Regions from separate parts of the Homo sapiens genome. Here regions 2, 3, 4 and 5 are each reported to be linked to region 1. Evidence: microRNA targets listed by miRTarBase, many of them from high-throughput screens and not tested one by one. Region 1 holds a microRNA gene; each other region holds the end of a gene's coding sequence.

Region 1 (6,054 bases):
TTAACTTTTCCTTGTTCAGTGTAATGTTGGCTGTGGTTTTGTCATAGAGGGCTTTTACTACATTGAAATATGTCCTGTCTATGCCAATTTTGCTGAGTGTTTTAACCATAAAGTGATGCTAGATTTTTCTGCATCTATTGAGATGATCATGTGATTTTTGTTTTTAATTCTGTTTGTGTGGTGTATCACATTTATTGACTTGTATTATGTTCAACCATCCTTGTATCCCTTGTATGAAACCCACTTGATCATGGTGGATTACCTTTTTGACATGCTGTTGGATTTGGTTAGCTAGTATTTTGTTATGGATTTTTGCATCTATATTCATCAGGGATATTGGTCTGTAGTTTTCATTTTTTTTTTTGTTATGTCCTTTCCTGGATTTGGTATTAGTGTGATATTGGCTTCATAGAATGATTTAGGGAGGATTCCCCCTTTCTCTATCTTGTGGAATAGTATCAATAGGATTGGTACCAATTCTTCTTTGAATGTCTCATATAATATAATTCAGCTGTGAATCTGTCTGGTCCTGGACTTTTTTTGAGGGCAAGTTTTAAATTACCATTTCAATCTCACTGCTTGTTATTGGTTGATTCAGAGTTTCTATTTCTTCCTAGTTTAATCTAGGAGGGTTGTATATTTCCAGGAATTTATCCATCTCCTCTAGGCTTTCTAGCTTATGCATGTAAAGGTATTCATAGTAGCCTTGACTGGTCTTTTGTATTTCCATAGTATGGGTTGTAATATCTCCCATTTCGTTTCTAATTGAACTTATTTGGATCTTCTCTTTTCTTTTCTTTTCTTGGTTAATATCACTAATGGGCTAATCAATCTTATTTATCTTTTCAAAGAACCAGCTTTTTGTTTCATTTATCTTTTGTATTTTTTTGTTTCATTTAATTCTTCTCTGATCTTTGTCATTTCTTTTCTTCTGCTGATTTAGGTTTGGTATGTTCTTGTTTCTCTAGTTCCTTGAGGTGTGACCTTAGATTGTCTGTTTGTGCTCTTTCAGACTTTCTGATATAGGCATTTAGGGCTATGAACTTTCCTCTTAGCACTCCTTTGCTGTATCCCAGAGATTTTGATAGGTTGTGTCACTGTTATCATTCAGTTCGAAGAAGTTTTAAATTTCCATGTTGATTTCATTCAGCAAAGTTTCAGGATACAAGATTAATGTATACAAATCAGTAACTCTGTTATATACCAACAGTGACCAAGCTAAGGATCAAATCAAGAACTCAACTCCTTTTATAATAGCTGCATATAATAAAATACTTAGGAATATACCTAACCAAGGAGATGAAAGACCTCTAGAAGGAAAACTACAAAACACTGCTAAAAGAAATCATAGACAACACAAACAAATAGAAATATATCCCATGCCCATGGATGGGTAGAATCAATATTGTGAAAATGGCCATACTGCTAAAAGCAATCTAAAAAATCAAAGCAATTCCCATCAAAATACTATCACCATTCTTCACAGAACTAGAAAAAAAAACCCCTAAAATTCACATGGAACCAAAAAAGAGCCTGCATAGCCAAAGAAAGATTAAGCAAAAAGAACCAATCTGGAGGCCATAGTCACCAAAACAGCTGATCCTGGTGTAAAAATAGGCATGAAGACCAATGGAACAGAATGGAGAACCCAGAAATGAAGCCAAATACTTATAGCCAACTGATCTTTGATAAAGCAAAGAAAAACATAAACTGGGGAAGGGACACCCTATTCAACAACAAATGGTGCTACAATAATTAACAAGCTACATGTGGAAAAATGAAACTGGATCCTCATCCCTCACCTTATACAAAAATTGACTCAAAATGAATCAAGGACTTAAATCGAAGACCTGAAACCATAAAAATTCTAGAAGATAACATCAGAAAAATCCCTTCTAGACATTGGCTTAGGCAAGGATTTCATGACCAAGAATCCAAAAGCAAATGCAACAAAAACAAAGATGAATAGCTGGGGACTTAATTAAACTAAATTAAGCACAGCAAAATTTTGTGATTGTCTGTTTTTCCTGCAGATTGTTTCTTTTGCCGTGCAAGTTTAAGTTTTTGCACGGCAAAAGAAACAATCCAGAGGGTAAACAGACAACCCACAAAATGGGAGAAAATCTTTGCGATCTATACATCCGACAAAGAGCTAACATCCAGAATCTACAAGGAACTCAAATCAGCAAGAAAAAAACAAACAATCCCATCAAAAAGTGGGCTAAGGACATGAATAGACATTTCTCAAAAGAAGATATACAAATGGCCAACAAACAGATGAAAAAATGTTCAACACCACTAATGATCAGGGGAATGCAAATCAAAACTGCAGTGTGATACCACCTTACTCCTGGAAGAATGGCCATAATAAAAAAATGCAAAGAATAATAGGTGTTGGCATGGATGTGGTGAAAAGGGAACATTTTTAACGTGGTGGGAATGTAAACTAGTACAACCACTATGGAAAACAGTGTGGAGATTCCTTAAAGATCTAAAAGTAGAACTACCCTCTACCCAGAGAAAAAGAAGTCATATGAAAAAGATACTTGCACACACATGTTTATGCAGCAGAATTCACAATTGCAAAAATATGGAACCGGCCCAAATGTCCATCAATCAATATGTGGATAAATAAATTGTGATATATACTGTAGAATACTAGTCAGCGATAAAAAAGGAATGAAATAATGGCATTAGCAGCAACCTGGATGGAATTGGAGACTATTATTCTAAGTGAAGTAACTCAGGAATGGAAAACCAAACATTGTATGTTCTCACTTATAAGTGGGAGCTAAACTATGAAGATGCAAAGGCATAAGAATGATACGATGGACTTTGGGGACTTTGAGAACGGATGTGGGGTGGGTGAGGGATAAAAGACTACACATTGGGTACAGTGTTCACTGCTAGGGTAATAAATGCACCAAAATCTCAGAAATCACCACTGAAGAACATATTCATGTAACCAAACACCTACTGTTCCCCAAAAACCTATTGAAATAAAAATTATAATGAATTTAGGAAAAAAGCTGCAGTGGAGGAACTCATAGAAAACTGTCTCATACCAAGTCTGTGCTCTCATGGGTCTTATGTATCAGTGAGAAAATATCATAATAAAATAATATCAGGTCAGAGACAAATAATATTAACGAAAATCCAGCAGTGGACGAGGGGGTGCAATTGGTAGGGAGTGCATTTTAGAAAGGTTGGTCAGAAAAGGCTTCTCTGATAAGGTGACTTTTGGCAGAGATTTTAATAAAGGATAGAAGAGCATGCCCATTTTGATAAATAATAGTTTAACATTTTTTAAAGTACTAAGATCACTCTTCCAAACCCAAGTTTATTAATCAGAGTTCAATGTCACAAGTTACAGAAAAGGGATTTATTAAAAGCATATTGGAGCCTGTAATCCCAGCACTTTCGGATGCCAAGGTGGGTGGATCATCTGAGGACAGGAGTTCAAGACCAGCCTGGCCAACATGGTGAAACCCAGTCTCTACTAAAAATACAATAATTAGCTGGGCATGGTGTGGAGTGTCTGTAATCTCAGCTACTTGAGACGCTGAGGCAGGAGAATCACTTGAACCCGGGAGGCAGAGATTGCAGTGAGCCGAGATCATGCCATGGCACTTTAGCCTGGGCGACAAGAGCAAAACTCCATCTCAAAAAAAAAAAAAAAAAAAGCATATTGGGACGTTCACAGATGCTCCAAGTGGGTAGAAAATTTGGGGGCAGATTCACACGGACAGGAAAAAGTGGTCTGGTGGAAAAACACAGCCACTATTACCCCAAATGGGAATATCAGCTGCAGGAACCCCTAACAAAGCTGAGCAGGGCTTCAGTTTGCAGGAGCTGGTAGAGCCACCAGAGAACATTTCTTTGGTCTCTACTTTTTTTGCCATCTTCTTGCTAGTAAAAATTTAGTACTACCAAGTCTGATTAGCAGAGCCTATGTCTTATGCCCAGGCCCTAATTATAAAGAAAGCAGGGTGGTGAATGTTTGGCATTTTCAGCTTTTGTGGCTGGGGAAATCCACACATGCAGGAAAGGCTTCAGTTGCTGGAGGATTATAAAGGATGATCAATTCTACAATAGCAAGAATCTCTTATAACTCAAACATTCCTTAACACTAACAACCTTTTCTTATATTGTTCCTAGACTCAAAAATGGTTAATAACACTTTGGTATTTATAAAGGTGACTTATTTATTTAAAATATTAACTATCCACAGTGGCCATTATATTTGCATACAGTTCAATACTCAAAAGATCTGTGAGGTTTTGAAGCAGAAAAAGAATTTCATTTCAGCTAAGGGATTTAGATTATATATAAGATGGTATATATAATTTACTCTTGAAATGGGTAATTGAATTGTTGCTGAATAAATATGAGATGATATATTGAAATAGATACAGTTTGCAAATATAAATAAGTTGGGTATATGTAACTGGTTTCACAACCCTGTGAGAACATATATGATACCATTAACATTAACAGCTATATCTCAATTGCTCCAATATCCAAACCATTTTGTGTGGCTTCAGTCTACTGTCAAATGTTGTTTCCCTGGGTGAGGTCAGATGCCTCTAGCATGACGGAATCCCATGTGCCCTGGAAGAAGACTTCTCATGTGCTCGTGACTATTCCTGAATTATTGGCTTATTCCTCTATCACTACCTGTGATACTGGAGTCTTCTGGGTGACAGGTACTTTCTGCTGTTTCCCCCTTTTAATTCTCCACTGGACCTCAAAGCAGCACTGTATAAGCTTAGAGCCTCATCACATTTTTGATGTTAACTGTAAGATTTTTCCCTTAACCCTTCATTTTCAGAGGTTTAAAACTGGTTAATCAGTTCAATGAAGGGGACAACACAACATCTATCCCTTTCACTGCCTTTATGAATACTCCTTTCACAAGTATCATTGTCGTACTTATACCATCACCATAAACAACAACAACATGTCCCCTTTCTTCTTCAGCTCAAAGATTAAAACTTCTCCCTCATATTTATAGACACAAATAGATACATGTACACAGTATGGCACAAAAAGCAATCTATTCATAGTTTAGGCTTAGTGAAGATATCCTGATACTCCCGCATTGGTACATAATAGAAAACAGACTTTGTGATGGTTAGATGTACAAACTGGGTAGCGTTTGGTTTATATATTTACTTGACTGTCTTTTACTCTAGCTAATGTAGAAGCTCAGGTGTTCAAATTATCCAAGCTCTCTGTTCCAGCAGTTATTTTCAAATCCAAATTGGGAAGTGATGGGTTCCTGATGTATTTAAATAAAATTTGTTAAAATGTGCCATTATCAACAGTAATGTACCAGCCTGGCTCAGTTAGGTCAGAAACAGATCAAAAAGCAGAAAAGTCGGCTGTTTCCTAACTGAGCTGCTTTGCTTAGCTGTTTTGGGGCAATTAGTAGCTTGAGGAAAAAGTGAATAACAAATTTACAACTATGTGTAATTGGATTTATGTGTGCAAATTCCTCAAAGAAATCAAATTACATTTGAAAACACTGTTTTATTTTTCTTCATGACAACCTATTATGGGGAAAAAGGGATGGGTATTTGTACTACCATTTTATAGATGAGAATTTTGACTTGCTGAGAGAAGATGACAAAGTAAAAGATGAATAAACTACTTCTGGACTGTAAGTCTCTGGTCTAAAACTCTTCTACTTTCTATATAATAATGCTGTTTAAAATATGGATCTGTGGTCATATAATTCCTATCATTTGTGTGTTAATAATTTGATGACACCTTATCTATGTACTTTCTATCTTGATTTCTTAAGTTCTTTGAGACCTGTTTTTCTTATCTAAATCCCTTATGCATATGAATCTTGAATTTAGTATTTTGTTCAACATGAAGGCACTTTGGGCTTCACAAGAACACAAATTTGTATAGGATGGACTTTAATATAACAGCTCTATTTTAGATTCTAAGAGTATCTCATTTTTAGAATTTCTATAAGAATGTTGTAAGTCTCTCCTTTAACATTGTCCTAGAGACTGCCCCGTGCCAGCTTAACTGACAATTCAC
Region 2 (6,054 bases), not on the chromosome of region 1:
AGAGCACCGCAATTAGCTCTGGATTATTCCTCAGTAAGAAAGGTGGAAAGCTGGTGAGACACAAGAGAAGGTTCCTAGGAAAGTATTATAATGAGTTAAAGTAATCCTGAAGAAAGTTTGAGGCTGGTGGCTCAAGCCTGTAATCCCAGCACTTTGGGAGGCTGAGGTGGGTGGAACGCTTGAGCTCAGGAGTCCGAGACCAGCCTGGGCAACATGGCAAAACCCCTTGTCTACAAAAAAAACAAGAAAATCAGCTGAGTATGGTGGCACACCCTGTGGTCCCAGCTACTCAGAAGGCTGAGGCAGGGGGGATCGCTTGAGCCCAGGAGGTTGAGGCTGCAGTGAGCAGAGATCATGCCACTGCACTCCAGCCTGGGTGACAGAGAGAGACTGTATCAAAACAAAACAAAATAAAACAAAACAAAAACAAAAACGGAAAGTTTGAAAGAACAGAAATCACGTAGCCTGGCAAGAAGTTGACTAGGGAACTTTTTAGATGATAATTCCCAGAAAACAGTGACAGTATTTTAGATGTAGCTATCCACCCACTTCTCTCTATCCTTACTAACACTGCCTTAATGCAGACCATCATTTCATCCTTGAATTGCTATAACCACTTCCTGTTTCTGACTCGACTTTTGTCCCTTCCCAGGCTAGTCTCTACATAACAGCTAGAGTTATCTTTCTGAAATGTAATTCTGACCACTTCAATGCCTGGCTCCCTACCGCGAGTCTGAACACTACCCTATAACTGCCTATTCATCTTGGTCTTTGCATCTCCTACGTTACTGTAAGCTCCATGAGAGCAGTCAGTTTCAAATTCACAGCTGATGACTCCTGGCACCTAGTACAGTGCCTGGCCTAGTTGGCATATGCATATTGGTTGAATTCACGAATAATATTAAGAAGATCCTCACGCTGAAAAATATTTAGCAACTGAACAAATGGCCAAAGAAAAGCATCTACAACAGAAAAATTAGAAAGTCCTCCTGGTACACCTGGAGAAATTTTTTTTTTTTCTGATAGTGCGAACATGTAAGTTTGCTCAATTTTTTTTTTTTTTTTTTGAGACAGAGTCTTACTCTGTCGCCAGGTTAGAGTACAGTGGCACAATGTAGGCTCAATGCAACCTCCACCTCCCAGGTTCAAGTGATTCTCCTGCCTCAGCCTCCCGAGTAGCTGGAATTACAGGTGCCTGCCACCACGCCCAGCTAATTTTTGTATTGTTTTTTTAGTAGAGATGGAGTTTCACCATGTTGGCCAGGATGGTCTCGATCTCCTGACCTCGTGATCCGCCCGCCTCAGCCTCCCAAAGTGCTGGGATTACAGGCGTGAGCCACTGTGCCCAGCCTAAATTTGTTCAATTTTTAAAAAACTTTGAAGGTCAAAAAGAAAACCAGGTATACATTTTTTGAGACGGAGTCTCGCTCTGTTGCCCAGGCTGGAGTGCAATGGCGCGATCTCAGCTCACTGCAAGCTCGGCCTCCCAGGTTCACGCCATTCTCCTGCTTCAGCCTCCCGAGTAGCTGGGACTAGAGGTACCTGCCACCACGCCCGGCTAATTTTTTTGTATTTTTAGGAGAGACGGGGTTTCGCCATGTTACCCAGGATGGTCTCGATCTCCTGACCTTGTGATCTGCCCGCCTTGGCCTCCCAAAGTGCTGGGATTACAGGCGTGAGCCACTGCGCCCAGCCTAAAAGCAGGTATACATTTAATGTTTAGCAGATGACTAATTGTCCATAAATTTAAAAATTATTCTAAATATATTTTTTAAAGATAAGGTCTTGCTCTGTTGCCCAGCCTGGAATGCTGTGGTGATCACAGCTCACTGCCGCTTCTGGGCTTAAGTGATCCTCTTATCTCAGCCTCCCAAGTAGCCAGAACTAGAGGTGCACACCACTACGCCTGGCTAGTTCTTAAATTTTTAGTAGATACGAGGTCTCACTATGTTTCCCAGGCTTCTCTTGAACTTCTGGCCTCAAGTGATCCTCCCACCTCAACCTCCCAAAGCATTGGGATTACAGGCATAAGCCACCATACCTGGCCCTATTTTAAATTTCTTAATACAAATAGTTTGGTTTTATCAAAGGTGGATTCAGGTTTTGTGGGGGCCTAAGGTTTATATAATTAGAAAACAGGGGAACCTTTTTATGAAGTTAAAAAAAAAATCAGTAAGACTATGCATAATATAAAATTAAGAACAGGGCCAGGCATGGTGGCTGACACCTGTAATCCTAGCACTTTGGGAGGCCGAGGCGGGCAGATCACCTGAGGTCAGGAGTTCGAGACCAGCCTGGCCAACATGGTGAAACCCCTTCTCTACTAAAAATACAAAATTTAGCTGGGCGCCTATACTCTCAGCTACTTGGGAAGCTGAGGCAGGAGAATTGCTTGAACCTGGGAGACGGAGGTTGTAGTGAGCTGAGATTGCACCACTGCTCTACACAGCCTGGGTAACAGAGCAGGACTCCGTCTCAAAAAAAACACTTTTTTAAATTAAATTAAATTAAGAACAGGGTCAGAGAAAACCTAGACAAGCAAGGGCTCTGCAGCTTCAGCTTTGTTAGCTTCACAGTAAATCTACCTCTAGTCATAAAAACAAAATTCCCTTTTTATAATTCCTTCATAATTATAAATTATAAATTATAGGCAAGATGTTCAACACTAATATTTATTGTATATAAAAAGAAAAATTTCTAAGTTGCTAATGAAAATCAACTCTTCTTATCAAATTTCAGTAATTTCAGTAACATATTTGCCCCTTTTATACTACAATAATCTCACAATTATGTAATTGTATAAACCATACTAGAAGCAAAGTGAAGGAAGGTTTTAGTTAGTTGTTAATAACTACATCTGATTCCAGTTGAAAAAACCAGTAATTTTTTAAATGCCTTTTTAATTTTTTTTTTTTTTTTTTTTTTTGAGACAGAGTCTCGCTCTGTCACCCAGGCTAGAAGGCAGTAGTGTGATCTCGACTCACTGCAACCTCTGCCTCCTGGGTTCAAACAATTCTCCTGCCTCAGCCTCCTGAGTGCCTGGGACTACAGATGCAAGCCAACATGCCCAGCTAATTTTTGTGTTTTTAGTAGAGACAGGGTTTCACCATGTTGGCCAGGCTGGTCTCAAACTCCTGACTTAAGATGATTGGCTCACCTCAGCCTCCCAAAATGCCTGGACTAAAATGCTTTTTTTTTTTTTTTTTTTTCCAGTGGCTGTGCTCCACGTATAATTCACAGAAAATAGCTATTGGTGAAGAATAAAAACAACATTGAGAGATCTATTAAACTTATTATCACCCCTTTTACTTATTAAGAAACTAATTATTTTAAAATAAGAATCTTTATGTCAAATAAAAATAAGATGCTAAGACAAGGAAACTGTAAAGCCGTTCTTGTTTTGGCATTTAATTTCAAGTAATTTGAGCTAATGGCACTGTTATGTACTGATGTCACTCTCTCTCATGGAAGGGAGTGGGAAGGGGAGGAAAAGAGAAATCTTGGCTTCAAACAAAATATTCAGATTATGCTGAGACATAAAACAAAAGTGGACATTCTTTATAAACCATGCTGTGCTGAAAGTTGCTGCATGCTGCTGACCCTCTGGGTGGGTTTGTGAGACCTGGGCACTCATTGGGTAACTTGTAGAATCCTTGCCTCTTCCTAGGAATTTAGCCAGAATAGCTTAAACAGTGGCTGGCCTATTCTATAGAATGGGGAGAAGGTGACTCTTAAACAAGGCTGAATGAAAAATAGGCATGGGCTGTCAGGTATCTATGATTTGGTTGAAACAGATAAACCAAGCTGAGAGGTAGAATGTCCTCTCTGGTATTCTGACATTTTAGAAAACTGAGACGACCGTTATCTTTCCCCTTCTTTCTCCTTGTTGGTACAATAAACAGGGCAGGAAATGATGGCCCCTTGTTTTTTTTTTTTTTTTTTTTTTTTTTTTTTGAGACAGAGCCTTGCTCTGTCTCCCAGGCTGGAGTGCAGTGTCAAAATCTCGGCCCACTGCAACCTCCGCCTCCAGGGTTTAAGCAATTCTCCTGGCTCAGCCTCCCGAGTAGCTGGGATTACAGGCCTGTGCCATCACGCCCAGCTGATTTTGTATTTTTAATAGAGACGGGGTTTCACCATGTTGGCCAGGCTAGTCTCAAACTCCTGACCTCAAGTGATCCGCCCACCTAGGCCTCCCAAAGTGCTGGGATTACAGGCATGAGCCACTCCGCCTGGCCTCTTTTACAGACCAAACTCATTGTTTCCATGCCCATCCAGTGCTATAAAAATAATTTAAAAACATAAAAACAGAGTGGCTGATAATGAAGAAAAAATCCTTACAAAGTACTGAATTGAAGCTGAAAGTCTCTCTAAAAAAAAAACAAACAAACAAACAAAAAAAGCCTTTGTGCCAACCAAGTCTCACCCTCCCTTTCCCAAAGATATATATGTTAAACCAAAATAAGGGCAGACCATGCAACATTTTTCACATTTTTAATGTAATGAATTTCTGACGTTATAATGGAGGAGCATAAAGGTGACAACCAAAAACAGCTCTTGTAGTCTAATGTCTTAAAATCCACACCCTTTCACCTTGCATGTGTGGAAGAAGAAAGAGCAGAAGATAAAATCACTTCCACCTGGACCACTGCTTTTCTTTATCTGTTAAAGGCACGTATATCACCCCCATCAGAGGCTTCATTTTGATGCTGCCATCTTGTAGCTTGTCATACTGCTCCAACATTTGGTTTCCGCCTGCAGGACCAACAGGCAATATCAATCTTCCTCCGGGCTTTAACTGATCTATTAGCTAAAAGAAAAAAAAAAAAGCACATACATCACCAAGTTACAGATTTTATTTTATTTTATTTATTTATTTTTGAGACAGGGTCTCACTCTGTCGCCCAGGCTGGAGTGCAATGACACGATCTCAGCTCACTGCAACCTCTGCCTCCCAGGTTCAAGTGATTCTCCTGCCTCAGTCTCCCAAGTAGCTGGGACTACAGGCACACGCCACCATGCCCAGCTAATTTTTGTATTTTTAGTAGAGACAAGGTTTCACCATATTGGCCACACTGGTCTCGAACTCCTAACCTCAAGTACTCCACCCACCTCGGCTTCCCAAAGTGCTTGGATTACAGGCGTGAGCTACTGTGCCCGGCCCAGATTTTATATTAATAGTCATTTGACATCATTATAAACAACTTTTAGTGTCCATAGGCAGAAAGCAGAAACGTTCTTTATTTAGTATATACAAATTAAGGCCAGACACGGTGGCTCACGCCTGTGATCCCAGCACTTTGGGAGGCCAAGGTGGGCAGATCACTTGAGGTCAAGAGTTCAAGACCAGCCTGGCCAACACAGTGAAACTCCAACTCTACTAAAAAAGTACAAAATTAGCCAGGCATGGTGTCAGATGCCTGTAGTCCTATCTACTTGGGAGGCTGAGGCAGGAGAATTGCTTGAACCCAGAGATGGAGGCTGCAGTTAGCCAAGATCACGCCACCACACTCCAGCCTGGGTGACAGAGCGAGACTCCGTCTTAAAAATAAATACATAGTATATACAGGTTGAGCATCAATAATCTGAAAACCCGAAACTGGAAATGCTCCAAAATCCAAAACTCTGAACATCAACATGACACCACAAGTAGATAATTTCACACCTGACCTCATGTGGCAAGTCACAGTCAAAATGCAATCACAACTTTATTCCATGCACAAAATTATTTGAAATATTATACAAAATTACCTTCAGGCTATGTGTATAAGAGGTATAACATAAATGAGTTTTATGTTTAGACTTGGTCCCATTCCCAAGATATCTCATTATGTATATGTAAATATTCCAAAATGTGAAAAAATCTGAAAAAATCCAAAATCCAAAACACTTCTGGTCCCAAATATTTTGGAGAAGGGATACTCACCCTGTACATACTTTGATTGTTATATTATTACTCAACTATCAGCCTCCTCTATTAAACGACAAGCTCTTGAGGATGGGGACTGTGTCTTATTCATCTTTGTGTCTTTAGCATCTAACACAGTACCTGGTACA
Region 3 (6,054 bases), not on the chromosome of region 1:
AAAAAAAATCTTAAAAGTAGCCAGAGAAAAAAGAGAGATTACCAAGGCATACAATTATACTAATAGCTAACTTTATGTCAACAACGAAATCAAAGGTAATGGATTAATATATTAAAAACTATAAAATAATTATCAACCTACAAATGTATGCTTAATAAATCTTTCATGAATAAAGGTGACAGTTATTTAAAATAATTTGCTACCAACCAACCCTCATTAAAATAATTTCTAATAGATGTTCTTTATGAGGAGGAAATTTGATTCCAGAGGTAGGTGGAGGACCATAGAAGAGGGAATGGTGTTTGAAGAAGTTGTAAATGTGTGGTTAAATCTAAACATTATCTACATAAAATGATAATAATGGCACCTTATTTTATGGATTATATTAACATTAAAAATTCATAGTATAAAAGATGAGGTAAATAAAGTTAAAAATTAGGCCACATATTAGAAAATATTTGTAATGCAAGCACAATAAGAATTAGAATACAGGTAATAACAATAGTAATAATACCAAACATTTAGAGACCACTTATGGGTCAGGCACAAATGTAAGCCCTTCATATGTATGTTCTGTAAGTTTAAGTATGTAAGTCTATACATATGCATATATCTGATACACTTATAAACTTATATATAATATACACATATACATACATATGTACATACATACAAATATACCTGTATGGAAACTTATTTAACAACCCTGTGAGCTAAGTATTATTTTCTTTAGTTTCTAGATGAGTAAACTGAGACAAAGAAACATTAAGTAATTTGAAGTAATTTGTTCCAAGTCACTTAGTCATTGGCAGATCTGGAATTCAACTGAAGCAATGTAGCTCCTGTTAACAAAGGATCAATATCCAGAATAAGGAAAAAACTCCTAAACACCAATAGGGAAAAAAAATAGGAAAACACAGGCTAAGAATATTGAACTGGCCATTCACAGAAGAAATCTGAAGAGCCTGTAAATATACACAAAGGTGTTCAATGCCATTAACAATTATGGAAATAGAAATTAAATCACACTAGTTAAATAAGCCAAGAAAGGTCTGCTAAAGCCAAGTGTTGGGGAGAATGTGGACAAACGACAACTCTTTATAATGCTGATGGAAATTAATGCCGGAACCACCACTCTGGAGAGCAAGTGGACAATATCTGGTAAAGCCGGAGATGTACAGCCTGTGATCCAGCAATTCTACATCTGGGCTATAGTCTAGAGAGCCTGGTTCACACTGGAAAACAACTCAATGTTAGTGTGTGGGAGGATGGATCCAGAAAGTGGTACATGCATTTCATGATTCTATTCTGCAGTTAAAAATGCATTATATCTAAATGTAAATAAATCTATAAAAGACAATATTAAGTGAAAAAAGTTTTGGAAAGATATATAGAGCATGAGATGTATGCAACTGTAACAATATTACATAGTGTTTACACATAGGTACATATATGTAAAGACAGCATGGGAAAGATTCACACGAACTACAGGTTAACAGAGAACAGAGAGGGAGTAGAGGGGGATTGGAGATGGGCACAAAAGGGGCTTCAATCCCATTTGCAAAATTATTTTTAAAAAACTGGTAATATTAACACATATTATCATTTTTTAGGTCTGAGTGTGGGATCATGGTATTTCATTATGTTAATCCTGAAATTTTTCTGTTTACTTGAACTATTTCATTAAAAATAGAATTGTATCTTGTTACACAGCTATAAAATAGTATTTAAAACCCTTGCATCATGAGACAGCTATAAGGATAAATCCTACAGTACTGTTTCTAGAATAAGAAAGATTCTCCCAACACAATTTTAAGGCTTCAAAAGCACTTTGCGTTCTATAATCTGTGGTTGAACCCAGCATTTAAGTCAAAAGCCTCCAGAAGGCGTCAGAAGCAGTGGTTGTAGGATGTTTCTACATCAGTACCATAATTTGTCTTGCATCACTTTTTATTGCTTATCATGTGCCAGGCACTGGATAAGTGCTTTACACATTAGTTCATTTAATCTTCCCTACAACTCTATGGGGTAGGTAGGTTATTTCCATTTTACAAATTATTTCCATTGTACATTTGAGGAATGAGGAAGTTAACTTGCCCAGCTAGTAAATGGTGAACCCAGGCAGTCTGGCTCCAAAACCTAGGCACTAGACTAAACGATTTGCGGCCATCTGGGTGAACTGATCTTGTGTCCCCTCCTGCGAAAACCCATCCTGGTCTTTTTTCCATCCAGCTACCTATTTTCTTTCATTAATCACCCATAACATTCTCTCTTACATTCTTATAATCTCCACTCTTCCTTCCTTAAGCATGAGGTATGTGGACAAGGGGAAAAGGGCCAAATGAATGGTTTTGGAGAGGAATACTTACTTAAGAGCTGAAGTTATCTATCTACGGCCAATGAAATGTTACACTTGGTTCACTTCTGGGTGTACTCCAAATGGTATTATACATTCATTTGGTGGAATAGCTGTGTGATCTTTCAAATATTGGATATACATTTCATGCTGAAAATATGCTACAGAGGTTGGTAATACTTAATGTCAACAACATACATCTTTTGAAGTTATGTGTCAGCAATTTTCCTAAGCACTAGATTGAGAGAGTATAATGCAAAGAATAGCTTGCATTTATAAAATATTTTAAACATATGGCTTTAATTAATTGCCCAAGTGTTCAAAAAATAAACTGAAGCCTGACTGACTGTATAATTTTAATATTTGAAAAATTGCATCCAGAAATTAATACAATACAGATTTGTACAAAAAAGGAAGGACGTAAAAACTTCTAATCATACAGACAAAAATATGACTGACTAAGCAAAGATTTTAAAAAAGGACAGGATGTTTAAAAAATACTGATAAATACTGTGTAATGCTTTAATTTACTGTGGCAGATACAAAAATCAATAATTCATTAACAGATTATATATGTAAAAAAAGTAACTACATGAATTTTCTAGCTTTTTAAATTAATAAAATGTAACAGTAGTGGTTTTTATTTTTTAAATGAGGTATTATTACACTGTAAACCAAAAACAGAGCACAAATAAATAAAGGCAATGTGCAATTTAGTGATAAATGATTATACATTTCAACTTAACAACAGATAACAAAAATTCTCTAGTTATTTATGGACTTCGTCATCTAAAAATTTGGCTTGCTTGTGTGGACTTCTTATTTAAAAGTGACACAGCTAATCGATATACAAGCACATCATTAAACATGCAGACCAAGCCAACACAATTTTTCCATGAGTCATCTCTACCAAATAAAAACTGTTTACATTTTATTTAAAACACTTAAATCTGGTTTCTTATACATGTTTCTTTTGTGCTTATAAGTGGTAACCTACATTAAAAAGCTGATTTTCTAGTTCAAGCAGTGTAAGAGAGAAGCAGTTTTATTTGCATATGGATTTAAAACAGAGCAAAATGAAACAAAACCAGGATGCCTTTAACTCTCTTAGGCTTTCCAAGATTTTTAAGAAGAAATACCCTTGAAATAATATACCCAAATGGAAGAGCAGAATCACTTCCATCTCCAAGAGAATAGTAAACAAAGTGACCCCTTTTCCTCAAAGATTTGTGGGTTGGCTTCAGAACTGTTGGAGAACAAGCTGATTAGTTCCTCCACCCTGGAAGAATTCTGCTGGTTGGGTGCAGGAAGCATAGCAAGAAAATAGCCTAGCCCAGAAAGATTTTGGGGAAAGTATTATTTGCATATGAACCATATGCTGGTACTAAATGCTGGTTTCATTATTATTGCAAATATAACTTCAGAGTTTTCTGAAGGAAAGCTGTTAAAGTATGGTAGAGAAGTCTTGGTTTGGCAATATTTGTAACATGCTAATAAAACTGCTTCATTTGCTGTAAATTAAAAAAAACATTTACTGTCTGACTTAAAATGCAGTTTCTTTTTACATACTACTTTATTAGAAACTCTAAAAAAAGGGTACTTTGAATTTATTATATTCAGAATCCAGTGAAAAACAAACATTTTGGCCAAAACGTTGAATTTTATTTTTATACTAAGCTATATCATTTTGACACAAGTGTTATTATTGTATTCACTTTTGTCAAATACTTTAACCTATCTTTTTCAAAAATTAGTGTTTTGGTACAACTGGTGATCAAAAAATGTAGATATAAGTCTTGTACATGATTCAAAAGATTTATAAAAGCAGTTATATTCTTTTGTGCTTGTAACTGACATACTTCATCAATGATTATTTAGGTCTGATTTCTTTTCTAATATCTTGAGCCTTAAGAAGAAATGATCATTATACAAATATTACAGAGTACACAAGTAACTAGTTTACTGCCAATGTGCATGCAGACTAACAACACTTAAAAGAATATAACCTTGAATCCAATTAGTCTGAAAATACTCTTGTACAATCATCTTTATTGATTTGTAAAAGCTGTGTACACATCTAAAACCCTGAATTTACTTTGTAAAAATAAATCTTTAACAATAAATGGCACTATCAAAATCCCATTATTCTCAGGCTATTATGTAGTTATTTACATGCTTTTCAGCAACTGCTGAGAAGAATCTTATAGGTCCCAAGCCAGTATATCAAAAATCCCTGTAAACTGCATTTGCAATGATACTGTGTTGTATACCACTATATGAAAATATGGCTACATGCCTTATGTTAAAGATAATGTAGCTGTTTGCTTTGCTACTGTGTGCTAGCAGTGCTAGCAGTGTACAATCTGCCACTGGGTTCAACTATACCATAAATTCATTCTTCACTGTACTTTGCTTTCCCAGTGGAATGCCTGTGACAAACTACTTGTGGAGAATGATAAAGTGCTATATAAAAGAGGAACTGGACCATACCTGTCTCTGCCATGTGGACTTTTCCTCACTCAAGCGATTTCTGTGTGTGTTTTTAGAAAATTATGCCTTTGCTGAACATACTTCATATTTGATTTTTTAAAAACTTAATATTTTAAAGTTGGTGAGCTTTGTCAAAGTGTTTTGAGACAGAAACATGAAAAGGCTAAAGGCACAGTAAGAGGGAAGTGAATGCTACATATAAAAGATTATATTTCAAGTCTTCTAGGTTACTCAAGTCCAAAACCTTCTGAATTTGAAATTCCAATGATCAATTTCTGTTTCAGATCCTTTTTGCTCTTGTAGGGGGGAAGGCAAAGTTGATTGAAGCAGGTATGGGCCACAGGTAAGCTAGGGAAAAAAATTAAAAAAAAATACTAAGTCTTGAAACACACACAAAATGACTGCTATGCAACTTTAAAAAATACCAGGACACACACATTCAAATCTATTTCACTCTGTTAAGAGATGACTCATCCATTTCTTCACTGAACAGATATTTACTGAGTACCTCACTTTGTATCAGACACCACTCTAGACACTAAGGCTGTGGTTACAGACAAGACAACCAATGTTACCACTTTCATGAAACTCATTTAAGAAGCATTTTGTTGGAGTCAGACAGATATGAATTTGAATTCTGCTTTCCCCACTTACTAGCTGTGGGGTCTTGTTCGAGTTGCATAATATCCCCAAATCCCAGTTTCCTCATCAACAATATAGGGTAAACCATCCAATTAGGCTGTTTAATAACCTAATCAGGTTGTTTAATAACCAGGAGTTCCCAACCCCAGGGCCAGAGATGGGTATGGTTGTTGGTGGCCTGTTAGGAACTGGGCTGCACAACAGGAGGTGAGTGGCAGGCGAGCATTACTGCCTGAGCTCTGCCTCCTGTCACATAAGCGGCAGTATTAGATTCTCATAGGAACAAGGACCCTATTGTGAACTGCACGTGCAAGGAATCTAGGTTGCATGCCCCTTATGAGAATCTAATGCCTGATGACCCGAGGTGGAACAGTTTCATCCAAAACTACCACCACCTCCCACTCTCCCCACTCCTCCCTGGTTCTGTGGAAAAACTGTCTTCCACAAAACCGATCCCTGGTGCCAAAAAGGTTGAGGACTGATGGTTAAAAAGATTAAAAGAGTGATATACACAAAACATCTAGCAGCCGAGGAGTAGATAATATAATGAATGATACTATTATTCC
Region 4 (6,054 bases), not on the chromosome of region 1:
GGACAAAGAACAGGAACTGGAGCAGTTGACTAAGGAGTTGCGGCAAGTCAATCTCCAGCAGTTCATCCAGCAGACAGGGACAAAAGTTACCGTTTTGCCAGCGGAGCCCATTGAAATAGAGGCCTCACATGCAGACATTGAAAGGGGTAAGATGTTGATAAATATGGTTTATTTTCCCTTTATTCTCACTGCTTAACTTTTTTTGTTTTTGTTTTTTGAGATAGTATCACTGTATCGCCCAGGCTGGAATGCCAGGGGTATTACCACGGCTTACTGCAGCCTCGACCTCCTGGGCTCAGGTGACCCTCCTACCTCAGCCTCCTGTAGCCGGGGCTACAGGTGCATGCCACCATACCTGGCTGATTTTCTTTTTTTGTATTTCTTGTAGAGATGAGGTTTCATCATATTGCCCAGACTAGTCTCAAACTCCTGAGCTCAAGTGATATGCCTGCCTCAGCTTCCCAAAGTGCTGGGATGACAGGCATGAACCAGCATGCCCGACCATCTGCTTAACTTTGAATAAACTACTTGTATTCAGTTAAAATATTACCCTAACATTCATAGCTAATTTTTAAGTGGGACACTTAAAAATTCTTTTTTTAAAAAAATATTTCCCATTTCTAGAGGAAAACCAGTAACATTTAGGTTATTTATTTACTTAGGTGAGCATGTAATCACCAAATGTCATATCATTAGTTTGAAACTACTTCTTTATTAAAACTTTTTTCTGAAGTATATATGAGTTATAGTCTATTAATTTGAATTTTGGCTTCTCTGTTCCTTATGCCCCCCTTTTCCTTCTTTTTCTTCTAAAAGTTATTATTAATTTGTGCTGATATTTAAAAGACAATTCCAAATCTGTGTATGCATATGGTGTGAACAACCAAAAAAAGAAGCAGAATATTCACCTTTTGTAAAGATCATTCACTGTTCAAATCAACAAAAACTAGTTTATCAAAGAGACCTGAGAAGGTTTTAGCCTTCTCCCCCAGCCCAGGGCACACAGGGGATTGCAATTATTGCTCTATGCAGTTTTCCCTTTTGGGGTAGGAAGCAGTCTGATTTTTTATATTGCTAAGTACTCCAAGTTGACGAGCTCATCAGGTGGCTCTCTTTGTTTCCTGTTTAGAGGCACCATTCCAGTCTGGGTCCCTGAAGCGACCTGGTTCATCTCGGCAGCTCCCCAGTAATCTCCGCATTCTGCAGAATCCTATCTCATCTGGTTTTAATCCTGAAGGCATATATGTATGACATTATCTGTCTTTAGGGAGGAGACCCAACAGAGGTACCAAGGACAGTAAACTTCCTTTTTGATTTGTGCCAATGATGAACAGAGGATCTATTCCACAAGACGCTGTATGTTTTTTCTCTCCTAAATTGCATACCACTTGGAGCCATACCCTGTGCACTGATGCTAAAGAACAAAGAAACTGTGTTTTCACACATCAACAGTGTTGATATTTTTGTCCAGCAGCTATAATGCAAAGCCTTCGTTTTTATTTGTAGCATTTTGAGAGCTTTAGGAAAGTATTATATAGTGTGTATACATAAATAAGCCGTGACTTAAGTAAGAGTGAAGAGAAATTTGTGACTGGCTTAGTTTAATTTATTTCATGTAATCAATGTGTGAATGTTGATGTTTTAATATTTTTATTGACTTATCCTGTGACTGACTTACGTTACATATTGTGTGATTATGACCGTGTGCATGTTGCCAGACTCCATCCATGCATTGCTGATTTACACTACACAAGTGTCCTAGGGTGCTCCACCATCGAAGCTAACTCCACAGGAAGCCACTTGCATTTGTTTTGTGAAACTGTCCTAGCCATTGCTTAATTAGGTGAAATAATTCAGGGTTTTTTAAATCTGGAATTTAGTCGTTCCTTTACAATATTTCCAAATATACGTGTGGCCACAGAGCATAACAGATATTTTTCATAAGCTAAATTGTATGTATAAAACATTTGCAGTGTTTCAGACACTGTTGAACAAAAATGTAATTGGTAAGTATGTATCCAAACAGGCATGGGGTTTCCTGATACATTATGTGTTTTGTTTCTGCCCTGTCTTATCATTTACACTCATGGATCTTCAGAATTAATCTAACATGGAAGTTATAGATACCTGAAAGCTGGGTTGGTCTACTTCAGGAACATTGCTTTAAGTGATGTATTTTAAAATAACCCGCTTCATATGTATGATCTGTTGGTGTACACACCATGGGTAAGGTATTGCTTGCACATAATTTGCTCTGCATATTATGGACCATTGTGGTTTCTTCCAGTCACTTAGATGGAAAGGAGGTTAAACCTAGGTACTTTTTAGCAAGGATATAAAGTCAAATTCAGCATATGTTTTTATTTTTAGGCTTGACTTTTACAAGACATTAATCTCCATTTGTACATATGTTATTTTATTTGTAAAACCAAATATGACTCAACACCTTTTTGATGAGTAGTGACTTAACTAAGATTTACAAGTAATATTTAGACAGATTCAGTCAGACACCACTTAGCCATTTTTACATTCCCTCTGGTTAGATTTGGTACAGTATAATTAAGACTTTAATCTGAAATTTAAAGTAGTTTTAATTCTGAAGAAGTTACATCCTCTGTATTATTTACATGCAACAAAATAAAAGTGGATTAATATAGTAATGCCATGGTAACAATAGAGCTATGTCTTATGCATGAAGGCAACTTTGGATGTTTTAACACATTTGACTGACTTTGGTTTAGTGAATGCTGACAATGCTGCTCTACTTAGGTTTCCTATGAAATTTTTAAGAATGGCTATGAGACTGTATAGAAGCTTCTAGAGAACTGAAAGTCATAATGCAGAGTTGCCTTTTCTAGTGCAGCTAAGTGGCGGACCTCAACTGAAGATATGAGTTTCTTTGGGTTCTTGGAGTTATCAAATTGATCTTGCCATTATGTTACTTTGCAAATAACTGAAGTAAATGATTCTTACCTAAATAACCACAACCTGTACACATTTGCTCACAATTTATAGTAGTTATTTTCTATCTACCTATATTTAAAATTAGGATGATTAAAAAATAATTTATAGATTTTGTGACAGTAATGATTTACATATGCCCAATATATGCCTTATTTTTAAATAAGTCATTCTGTATAAAGTCATTTTGTTGTTGTTCAGAGAAATCAAGATCTTATTCACAAAGAAAAACATTTTATAAATTGATCGCATTTTCTTTAAGTCAAAATGTTAAACTGGAGGCAGTATTAAACTTTGCAATTAGGAGTTTCAGAGATGCCTTGGCATACCACGAAAAACACTGTCAATATCCAACTCATTATAAATTGTTATCAGAATTAACCTAATAACTTTAAGTAAGGACAAGCAGCATCCTAGCAACTTGTAGTAGTCTTGGGTTCCCAGCAGAGTATCACAGTTAACCTCTCTGACAACTTCATCAGAATTTCCAAGCTGCCAAATAATCTTCATAGACCTAATTACAGATTTAAAAAAATTTCCTAGGCGACGAAAGTATAGAAATGTGAATATGTTGAATACATTGAGAAGCTGTACTTTTTAATTAGTTATATTACTTCTGGAAGCACATATCTAAGGAATATTTTCTAAGACTCAGAGGGAAAAAAACTCGTTTTCATAGGATCATCTGAAGATACTTTAGTATATTTGTGATCATTTTTATCTATTGCAAATACAAATGAATTAGATAAGTGCCACATCCTGGATACATTTCGGAGGGGTAGTGGGCAATGGTATACAAAAATACCAAATATAAAATTTTCATCTGGGGGAATGTTCAGGTTCTAAATACTAAATTAGATTTCAATGTTTTGTGTTTTTTTTAAAAAAATCATATTGCAACTTGTTTTATTGTGATTTTCTACAAGTATTAAATACATTTAAAGATCTTTTTATCTTACCAAGAAATAATTTGGAATAGCATTGGTATATTTGACCTTTTGAGTGTCTGTCATCCTCAGAGAATGGCCCATAGTGTGTTGCCTGTGGACATAGTGTCCATAGTCCCTTTCTTGTCCTTCTGAGATATTTTGGTTTGATAACATTTTGTTTTTTGTCTTGATGCACAGGGACTTTTTTATAATATGAGACTTCAGTTGGTATTAATAGGAGTTACCTATTTAATTCTCCCAGTCATCAATGAGGTAATCATCAATTCCTATAGTTCAAATTAGTCATAAACAAGAGCTACAGCAAGACTGATAGAGTAAAAACTATATAAATACAGTAAAAAAAAAATAGAATTTATGGTGTGAAATATGAAGTATAGCAATATATAACAAGAACATGTAAGCACTTGCTTCCACAGCATAAATGTAATTTACATCTGCATTAAAGGATAATTTTCTCTGTGAATAAGAGCAAAATGGTCTTCAGAGAAACAGACTGTTCATTTGAAGCCATTTCTGTAAACATCTTCCAAGATAGAACTGTAATGGATTGAGGAAATAACACAGAAAAGACAAAAACTTTTGATTTCAGGCATGCAAAGTGCTTGGGCAGATGGACAGTTCCCATTGTGCATTGCCTTTGATAAATTTGGCCTTAATTTATATAACGATGCTGTGTTCACATCCCTCTCCTACCTAAAGTTGTCTTTATTGGTTTATATTGTGTTAAAATTAGCTTATAATTATTACTTTTGTATTGTGTTCAGTTTTTTAAGTTGCATGTTTATACTATTTGCTACAGTATTTTTAAGTTTGGGGTGAAGGCCATCAGCTGTATCAAAAAGACAAAACAATCACTATTTATTCAGTATTGCTGCTTTACATCTCCAGAATAAGCTTTCGATGCCAGGACAGTGACTGCCTGAAAGCTGCAGGAGCTCTTTTCAATGCATTTTATATATTTTTAGAAACCAAATAAATGCAGAAAACTATTTCGTATACTAATTATATTAAACCAGCAGAAATATAAAGGCAATAAAGTATATACATATATATGGGGGGAGGGGAAAGATTAAAAAATAGATTTACAGCCAGACATGGTGATAGCCCTAAATGTATTTCTCAATATGTTTTTCTTTATTGACCCTAGGAGGATTTGAGTTGCTGCAGCTTTAAACAGAAAATTGCCATGTTCACTAATTGTGAGCACATAAATATGCTTTTAGTACTGCTTTGCTTATGTACAAATAAATCTGTAATATGTATTATATGTAATTATCCTTTTCTTTGACTTTCATTTTAAATGTATATTTTCTGATCATTATGAGCTGTAAAACAAAGAATCAATATTGGATATTCTCCCAAATAATAAATTTTCAGGATTCATTGGGGCATTACAGTTGTCAGTTTGTTTCTTACATCCTTTATATTTTTAAATACAATTTTACTTCCTTTAAAAGATACCAAAGAGAATAGTGGCACATATCACTACACATAATTACATTTTTCATATATACTTAAAGAATCATCTACTGCTCCAAAGATGGCTTCATCAAAGTAAAACTGAATTAAGAAACTACTATGCCTTTTATTTCAAAAGTGAAAGAAGAAATGATATCTTAATGAATCTCTGTATTCCCAGATTTCCCTAAAACCATAAGTGAGAGGAAGAGAACTAACATTTCAGTCCCTACTACGTGCCAAGTGCAATATGGGGCACCGGTCACACTTTAAACATTCACAGCCATCCAAGGAACTGCTCCTAAATCACACAACCCCTAAGTAACTGACATAGCATTTGAACTTAGATGTTTCAGACCTCAAGGCACTTTTCTGTATTCCATGGTAGAGATGCATGAGCTTTACGGTGCCCAGTTTCTGCATTTTAACCACTTTTTAATGTGGAAGTATATAAATTGTCATTTTTATAGGAATATTTTTATAAGAAGTTAAACCTTTACTTAGAAATTATACATGAGGGCCGGGCGCAGTGGCTCACGCCTATAATCCCAGCACTTTGGGAGGCCAAGGTGGGCAGATGACTTGAGGTCAGGAGTTCGAGACCAGCCTGGCCAACGTGGCGAAACCCCGTCTGTACGAAAAGTAAAAACAAAATAGCTGGGCGTGGTGGCGGGCACCTGTAGTC
Region 5 (6,054 bases), not on the chromosome of region 1:
TCCCACAATATAAAACTGTACTTCACTGTCAGGAAGAAATCACAGAATCATATGATTCTGCTTTTACCATGCCCCTGAGCAATGTCTGTGCTAGGGAAACTTCCCGTCCCATATCCTGCCTCAGCCCGCCAAGGTAGCCATCCCATGAACACACTGTGTCCTGGTGCTCTCTGCCACTGGAAGGGCAGAGTAGCCAGGGTGTGGCCCTGCCATCTTCCCAGCAGGGCCACTCCCGGCACTCCATGCTTAGTCACTGCCTGCAGAGGTCTGTGCTGAGGCCTTATCATTCATTCTTAGCTCTTAATTGTTCATTTTGAGCTGAAATGCTGCATTTTAATTTTAACCAAAACATGTCTCCTATCCTGGTTTTTGTAGCCTTCCTCCACATCCTTTCTAAACAAGATTTTAAAGACATGTAGGTGTTTGTTCATCTGTAACTCTAAAAGATCCTTTTTAAATTCAGTCCTAAGAAAGAGGAGTGCTTGTCCCCTAAGAGTGTTTAATGGCAAGGCAGCCCTGTCTGAAGGACACTTCCTGCCTAAGGGAGAGTGGTATTTGCAGACTAGAATTCTAGTGCTGCTGAAGATGAATCAATGGGAAATACTACTCCTGTAATTCCTACCTCCCTGCAACCAACTACAACCAAGCTCTCTGCATCTACTCCCAAGTATGGGGTTCAAGAGAGTAATGGGTTTCATATTTCTTATCACCACAGTAAGTTCCTACTAGGCAAAATGAGAGGGCAGTGTTTCCTTTTTGGTACTTATTACTGCTAAGTATTTCCCAGCACATGAAACCTTATTTTTTCCCAAAGCCAGAACCAGATGAGTAAAGGAGTAAGAACCTTGCCTGAACATCCTTCCTTCCCACCCATCGCTGTGTGTTAGTTCCCAACATCGAATGTGTACAACTTAAGTTGGTCCTTTACACTCAGGCTTTCACTATTTCCTTTATAATGAGGATGATTATTTTCAAGGCCCTCAGCATATTTGTATAGTTGCTTGCCTGATATAAATGCAATATTAATGCCTTTAAAGTATGAATCTATGCCAAAGATCACTTGTTGTTTTACTAAAGAAAGATTACTTAGAGGAAATAAGAAAAATCATGTTTGCTCTCCCGGTTCTTCCAGTGGTTTGAGACACTGGTTTACACTTTATGCCGGATGTGCTTTTCTCCAATATCAGTGCTCGAGACACAGTGAAGCAAATTAAAAAAAAAAAAAAAAAAAATCCCTGAATGATGATTAGAGACATCACCGCTAAAAAACTACATTTATAAGCTAGGATTTGTTATATGCAAATATTTTCTGCCTCTTCTTTTGTTCTGTTTAAAACAATAAAATGCATTTGTATAAAAAATGCTTTAAATGATGGATATGTTACTTTAGCAAGAACTTTTAGGTCAGGTTTCTCCTTTGTTTTGATGAATAGTCAATGAAACTAATCCTCAAGATCTGGAAACTAAAGATTTTTATTTAATCCAAATGTTGCACTGGAAGAAGAAATCAACAGTGGTATATTTACTTAACAAGGATGTGTGTAATACAAGACAACCCTGGGGATTACACACTTGAAGGAATGGAAGTGGCAAAGGTTAACAGGCAGAAAGCAGCTGGATGAAACAGTTTATTTTCATCTTAGAAGATTCTAGCTATCTGTGGAGACCACCACTGTTCCCCGAAAAGCTAAAGTTGTTAAGTTTGTAGGAGTACCACAGGTCCTTCCCCCTGCTGCAAGACAGAGACTTGCTCTGTTGCCCAGGCTGCAGTGCAGTGGTGCAATCTCAGCTCACTGCAACCTCTGCCTCCCGGGTTCAAGCAATTCTCCTGCCTCAGCCTCCCATGTAGCTGGGATTACAGGTGTGCGCCACCATGCCTGGCTAATTTTTGTATTTTTAGTAGAGATGGAGTTTCACCATGTTGGCCAGGCTGGTCTCGAACTCCTGACCTCAAGTGATCCGCCCACCTTGACCTCCCAAAGTGCTGGGATTACAGGTGTGATCCACCACGCCCGGCCACACAGGTCCATTTTTCATATTCCAAAGCCCAGTATAGAATAAATAGGGTTTTCAGGGATCCACCAGGGCTATAAAACAGAGTTAGCTTTTGGGGACATAGTCCTCTTCTTCCTTAAAGAAACACTGACTAAAATAGTAGGAGCAGGTTTTTAGAGTAGAGTTGGGACATCACTTTTTCCCTGATTTTCTAGATCTGAAAGGGGTAACATGTCATTAAAGGGTGATGATATTGATATTTAGTGTTGCCAACTGCTATTATCACTGCTTTATCTTGGAAAGTTGCCGACTATAAAGACAGATTCCAGCCTGCTTGAGTTAAGGGAAAGGCCAAGGCTGCTACTGAATTAGCAGTTTCTAAAACTGTCTTGTTTTTGCCATTTACCATATGTTCACTGGTGCTGCCTTCCTGCTGTAGTATAATCATTTTCTCAAATCAGTTGCCTCTCAGGACAAGATCAGCATTTTCCTAGGGTCCTTCTGTAGCACCACTTAAGGAATGAACCTATCACAGGAACTCCCTTTGAATAAAATGATGGTGACTCCCACACGCAGGAAAGAATCATTTACTTCATTTGCTCTTGATATACTCCCTTATGAATTTAGAACAAGTGATCCAGGATTAGCTGTAACTCTGTGCTTGAAAAATATTTTACTACTACTAAGTATTCAGAAATCTTTGTTATCAGTAGGTGGTGGTAGTGATAGGGAAGGGAGCTTTGATCACTAATCTCTCAGACTGTGGCCAGAATGGTGATGCTTAAGCCAAGTATGAATGGCTATTAACATACTGAGGTTAGGGAAGGAGTACTGAGAAGTGCTTTGCAGCAACACTCGCAGCTTGTGTGATGATGCAGAAGAAAATCTGATCATGTTCACCCTGCTTTGACAATGAGCCTTGCCCATTGGAGAATGTTCAATCAATAGTAGACCTAAAAAAAATCAACTTGTTGCTTTCATCTTTTTATTGATAGCACAGCCAGAGCTACCAAAATGATTTACTGGATTCTAGCAAATTAATAAATACAGTAATTTGATTGTAAAAGGAAACATTCTACTTGGACATTTTAGTAGAAATTGCTAGAGGGAAGGAGCTCCTGGCGTACATTCTACTTGGATAGAAGAGAAGATAGCACAGGAGGAGAACTGGACAGTCCAGGTATAGATTGTTGAGATTAGGGATTCAGCAGAAAGCAAAGCAAATGTTCTCATTGTTCTTTTGAGGTACGAACTCTGAAGAGTCAAGACATTAAAAATAAAAAGCAATTGAACCGGGTAGCCAAACTTAGGCAAAAGGAATAAATATTTGGCAACATTTTGACTTTAACTGCCAATCTGAGATTAGTTTCTTCAGAAATTTGGAAGCTGCAAAACGTTGCCTTTCTTATTCCATGAAAGGCAGGGCAGGCAAAGGTAAGAAAACTGCTGAGTGGGCTCCTTGTACCAGCACCAACCAGCAGCCCTTGACAGCATAGATGGGATGAGTGTAAGGGCTATCCTTAGCATAAGGGAAAGACGGTTATAAGCTGAGAAGATTGAAAGAAGAATGGAGCCACAAAGAGAATAGCATAAATAACAAGAAGGAAACATGAAGAACAAGCACTTAAGATATTAACTTTCAGTCTTTCTCCATTTCTTGATGTCTAATGAGGCAAAATAACTGGGCAAGGACCACCAAGATGAAGAAGTTAAATAAAATGTCACAATGAAATTGAGTGCAATAATACAACTGTTGACTGACTTTCCAAAACCACGGTGATCGGTAGAGTATCATCAATGTTACCGAGGATTTTGTTTCTGCCTCATTATAACTCACTTCCATGTATTTTGTCAGTATAGTACGTATATTTAAGCACTCCAGTGACAATTATGACAATAGTTTCTGGAAGAAATCTATGACTATAGCTTTGGGAAGCACACAATATGAAAAGGGAATTTCCCCTAAAGACAAGGAATGCAGACAAATTCAAACCCTTAAGAACAACAACAAAAAAGATTTAAAAAGACTGATGACTGTGAGGCAGGCACATTTTCCTCCTTTTGCTGAACTGGGGCATGAGGCATTTAGGTTAACCATGGCTTAACTGGTGTTGGGTAAGCTTTATATTATAAAACATGAAGATGGCAAAGGTTTCACTTAAGTTTTTCTTTTACTACTTTAATTTGCTTAAAAGCACAAATGCTTGTGCTTGCAGTAACTTCCTAAAAGCAGAAGTAATGTTCCCTTTTACTACCTTAATAAAGCATTTGCCCCTTTGATACAAATGATTTTTTTACTGTGCTAACAGCTGAACCAGTGGCACAAAATTGAGATGGTATTTACTGCAGCAAGGTCCCTGTAAATCAAATTCTAAGCTTTACATAAAAATCTTATTTATAAAAAATACAATACCAAGTACAGTGAGAATGGAGCATGGAGCAGCAGTGCTCCCTGCCAGGGCCATGTGGAAGTGGCTTTTGCTACAGTGCTTGCTTAATGGCACAAGTGAAAAGCTGAATAAGGCAAACACTTGAAGAGGCAGTTTTCTGTAAACTTCTGGGGGTGGGGGGAATTTCCTCTCGGGACAGATACTGGTTTGGGATGGCTAAGATCAGAAGGTGTGATATTTGGCTGCACCTGACACATCACAGATTTAAGATAGCTTCTGCTGGATGAGACCAGTTAACTCTTTTAGGAGAGAGGTTATCACTACAGCTTTCTGCCTTTACTGTTACAATGTGCAGCCGCCAGATGGTATCCTCCTATGGAAAAAAATCACCTCCAAAATCTTCCTAAGTGAAAAGATACAAAATAAGCTAAGTCACTAAAAGGTTTCCTTAGCTTAAAGCTCCTTAAGAATCCTACATTGATAACTAAGTAACTTTGTTAGCGGTGTGTAGCTAGACACAAATGCTTTAACTAGAATATGTATTCCCACTCACTTGGTACCTAATAGTGATACATCGTAATGACACTTGGAAAACAAACTGGTCCTGAGGAATTTTGGCCTCTTCTCATGTCCTCACTTGGAACTTTCCAGCTTTCGTGACGTATTTGACTCCTTTAAATGGCTTATATTTCTCCCCATACATGTCCAAACGGTTTACTTTTAAGCCTGTATCAAAAAGAATGAAAAAGAATAAATTATCATCATCCCAACCAATATAATGTTAGCAATGAGCGCTATATGGTAAATCTGACATTAACCAGTGTCCCTTCCACCATTTGGAAGAAATGTCTCTTCTATCATTTACAAATTATTGCACTTTGATGGTATGGTTTTGGTTAAGATTCCCACACAGGCAGGGAATGTCTGTGAAGTATAATTCTACTTTCTGTGAATATGAATAACTCTCTTTTTGGTGCTTAAATGAGGGCGGAGGTGAGGGGAAGCTGTTTGAAATAAGGTGCTCTGAAAAATCATTTGGTCGGTGCCTGTGAGACTGCCCCACCAAGCACAGTATAAAAGGCAAATGGGCTACTGCTCTTTCTAGAGAAGGAAACTTTTGTTACTCTTCTAAATGCCTAATAAATGAGCTTGCAAAACTCAATTACCCTTAACTACAAGTCAACCTTATCCTTACCTGAAATAGCAAGCTGCTGGATCTTAAACTGTATGTTGAGGCTCGGATTCTCTTCTGGTTTGGGGGCTCCAGACTGTAAATTTACCAGTCCTTTAAGACTTGGGAGCTTTTGTGGAGTAATTTTTCCCACATCCCATGTTAGTACCTTAAAAAGACAAAAAATGAAAAACAAATAGAACCATTTATTAAAGACAAACCCTCAAAAACAAAGTTCAAAGATATCATAAACTTCTGTACAAACTGAAGTGCAGTCTCTTGAAAACAAGAGATCTGGCATCTACAGTGAGTTTACCTCTGATTAATTCTGTGACTTTGAATGGGGAGTGAGAGCAGAGAATCTACATTTGTTGAGCATTTTCTTTTGTATTAGCACCGTGCTTAGCATTATTCATATGTTGTCTCATTGAGGGCTGTGAAGTAGCTTTTGTCTTCTATTTACAAATGAGGAAATTAAAGCTCAGAGGACATTAAGGC

The links. Region 1 holds the annotated microRNA hsa-miR-4445-5p (AGAUUGUUUCUUUUGCCGUGCA, at 2,032-2,053, shown strand). A microRNA usually pairs through its seed, bases 2 to 8, with sites in the 3' UTR of a target mRNA and lowers its output. Matches are read on the target gene's strand: a 7mer-m8 pairs with bases 2 to 8, a 7mer-A1 pairs with bases 2 to 7 and ends in A, and an 8mer does both.
Region 2: miRTarBase lists PCMT1 as a target of hsa-miR-4445-5p. The part of its 3' UTR that is shown has no 7-base or 8-base seed match.
Region 3: miRTarBase lists HECTD2 as a target of hsa-miR-4445-5p. The part of its 3' UTR that is shown has no 7-base or 8-base seed match.
Region 4: miRTarBase lists RASSF8 as a target of hsa-miR-4445-5p. Seed matches in the 3' UTR shown: 8mer at 4,758-4,765.
Region 5: the mRNA of AP3M1 is a reported target of hsa-miR-4445-5p. Seed matches in the 3' UTR shown: 7mer-m8 at 3,181-3,187 and 7mer-A1 at 3,051-3,057.

The regions. Positions count from the first base shown.
Region 1 is chr3:109,600,804-109,606,857 of GRCh38, forward strand. MIR4445 (microRNA 4445) reads left to right here and starts at 2,025; the gene lies at 2,025-2,094.
Region 2 is chr6:149,800,953-149,807,006 of GRCh38, reverse strand. It overlaps PCMT1 (protein-L-isoaspartate (D-aspartate) O-methyltransferase), which reads right to left. Exons shown (of 8, transcript NM_001360452.2): 7 at 4,591-4,807. The coding sequence ends at 4,628. LOC107986660 (a long non-coding RNA gene) reads left to right here and starts at 1,668. Exons shown (of 2, transcript XR_001744415.1): 1 at 1,668-1,704; 2 at 3,214-3,882.
Region 3 is chr10:91,511,404-91,517,457 of GRCh38, reverse strand. It overlaps HECTD2 (HECT domain E3 ubiquitin protein ligase 2), which reads right to left. Exons shown (of 21, transcript NM_182765.6): 21 at 2,638-5,194. The coding sequence ends at 5,074. All of the region lies in intron 3 of HECTD2-AS1 (HECTD2 antisense RNA 1), which reads left to right. Among named protein-coding and RNA genes, the nearest start is that of HECTD2-AS1, 97 kb to the left of the region's middle.
Region 4 is chr12:26,067,568-26,073,621 of GRCh38, forward strand. RASSF8 (Ras association domain family member 8) reads left to right here. Exons shown (of 6, transcript NM_001394098.1): 5 at 2-146; 6 at 1,130-5,302. The coding sequence ends at 1,251. Among named protein-coding and RNA genes, the nearest start is that of BHLHE41, 54 kb to the right of the region's middle.
Region 5 is chr10:74,118,800-74,124,853 of GRCh38, forward strand. It overlaps AP3M1 (adaptor related protein complex 3 subunit mu 1), which reads right to left. Exons shown (of 9, transcript NM_012095.6): 8 at 5,581-5,725; 9 at 1,456-5,111. The coding sequence ends at 5,011. VCL (vinculin) reads left to right here. Exons shown (of 22, transcript NM_014000.3): 22 at 1-1,370. Among named protein-coding and RNA genes, the nearest start is that of AP3M1, 29 kb to the right of the region's middle.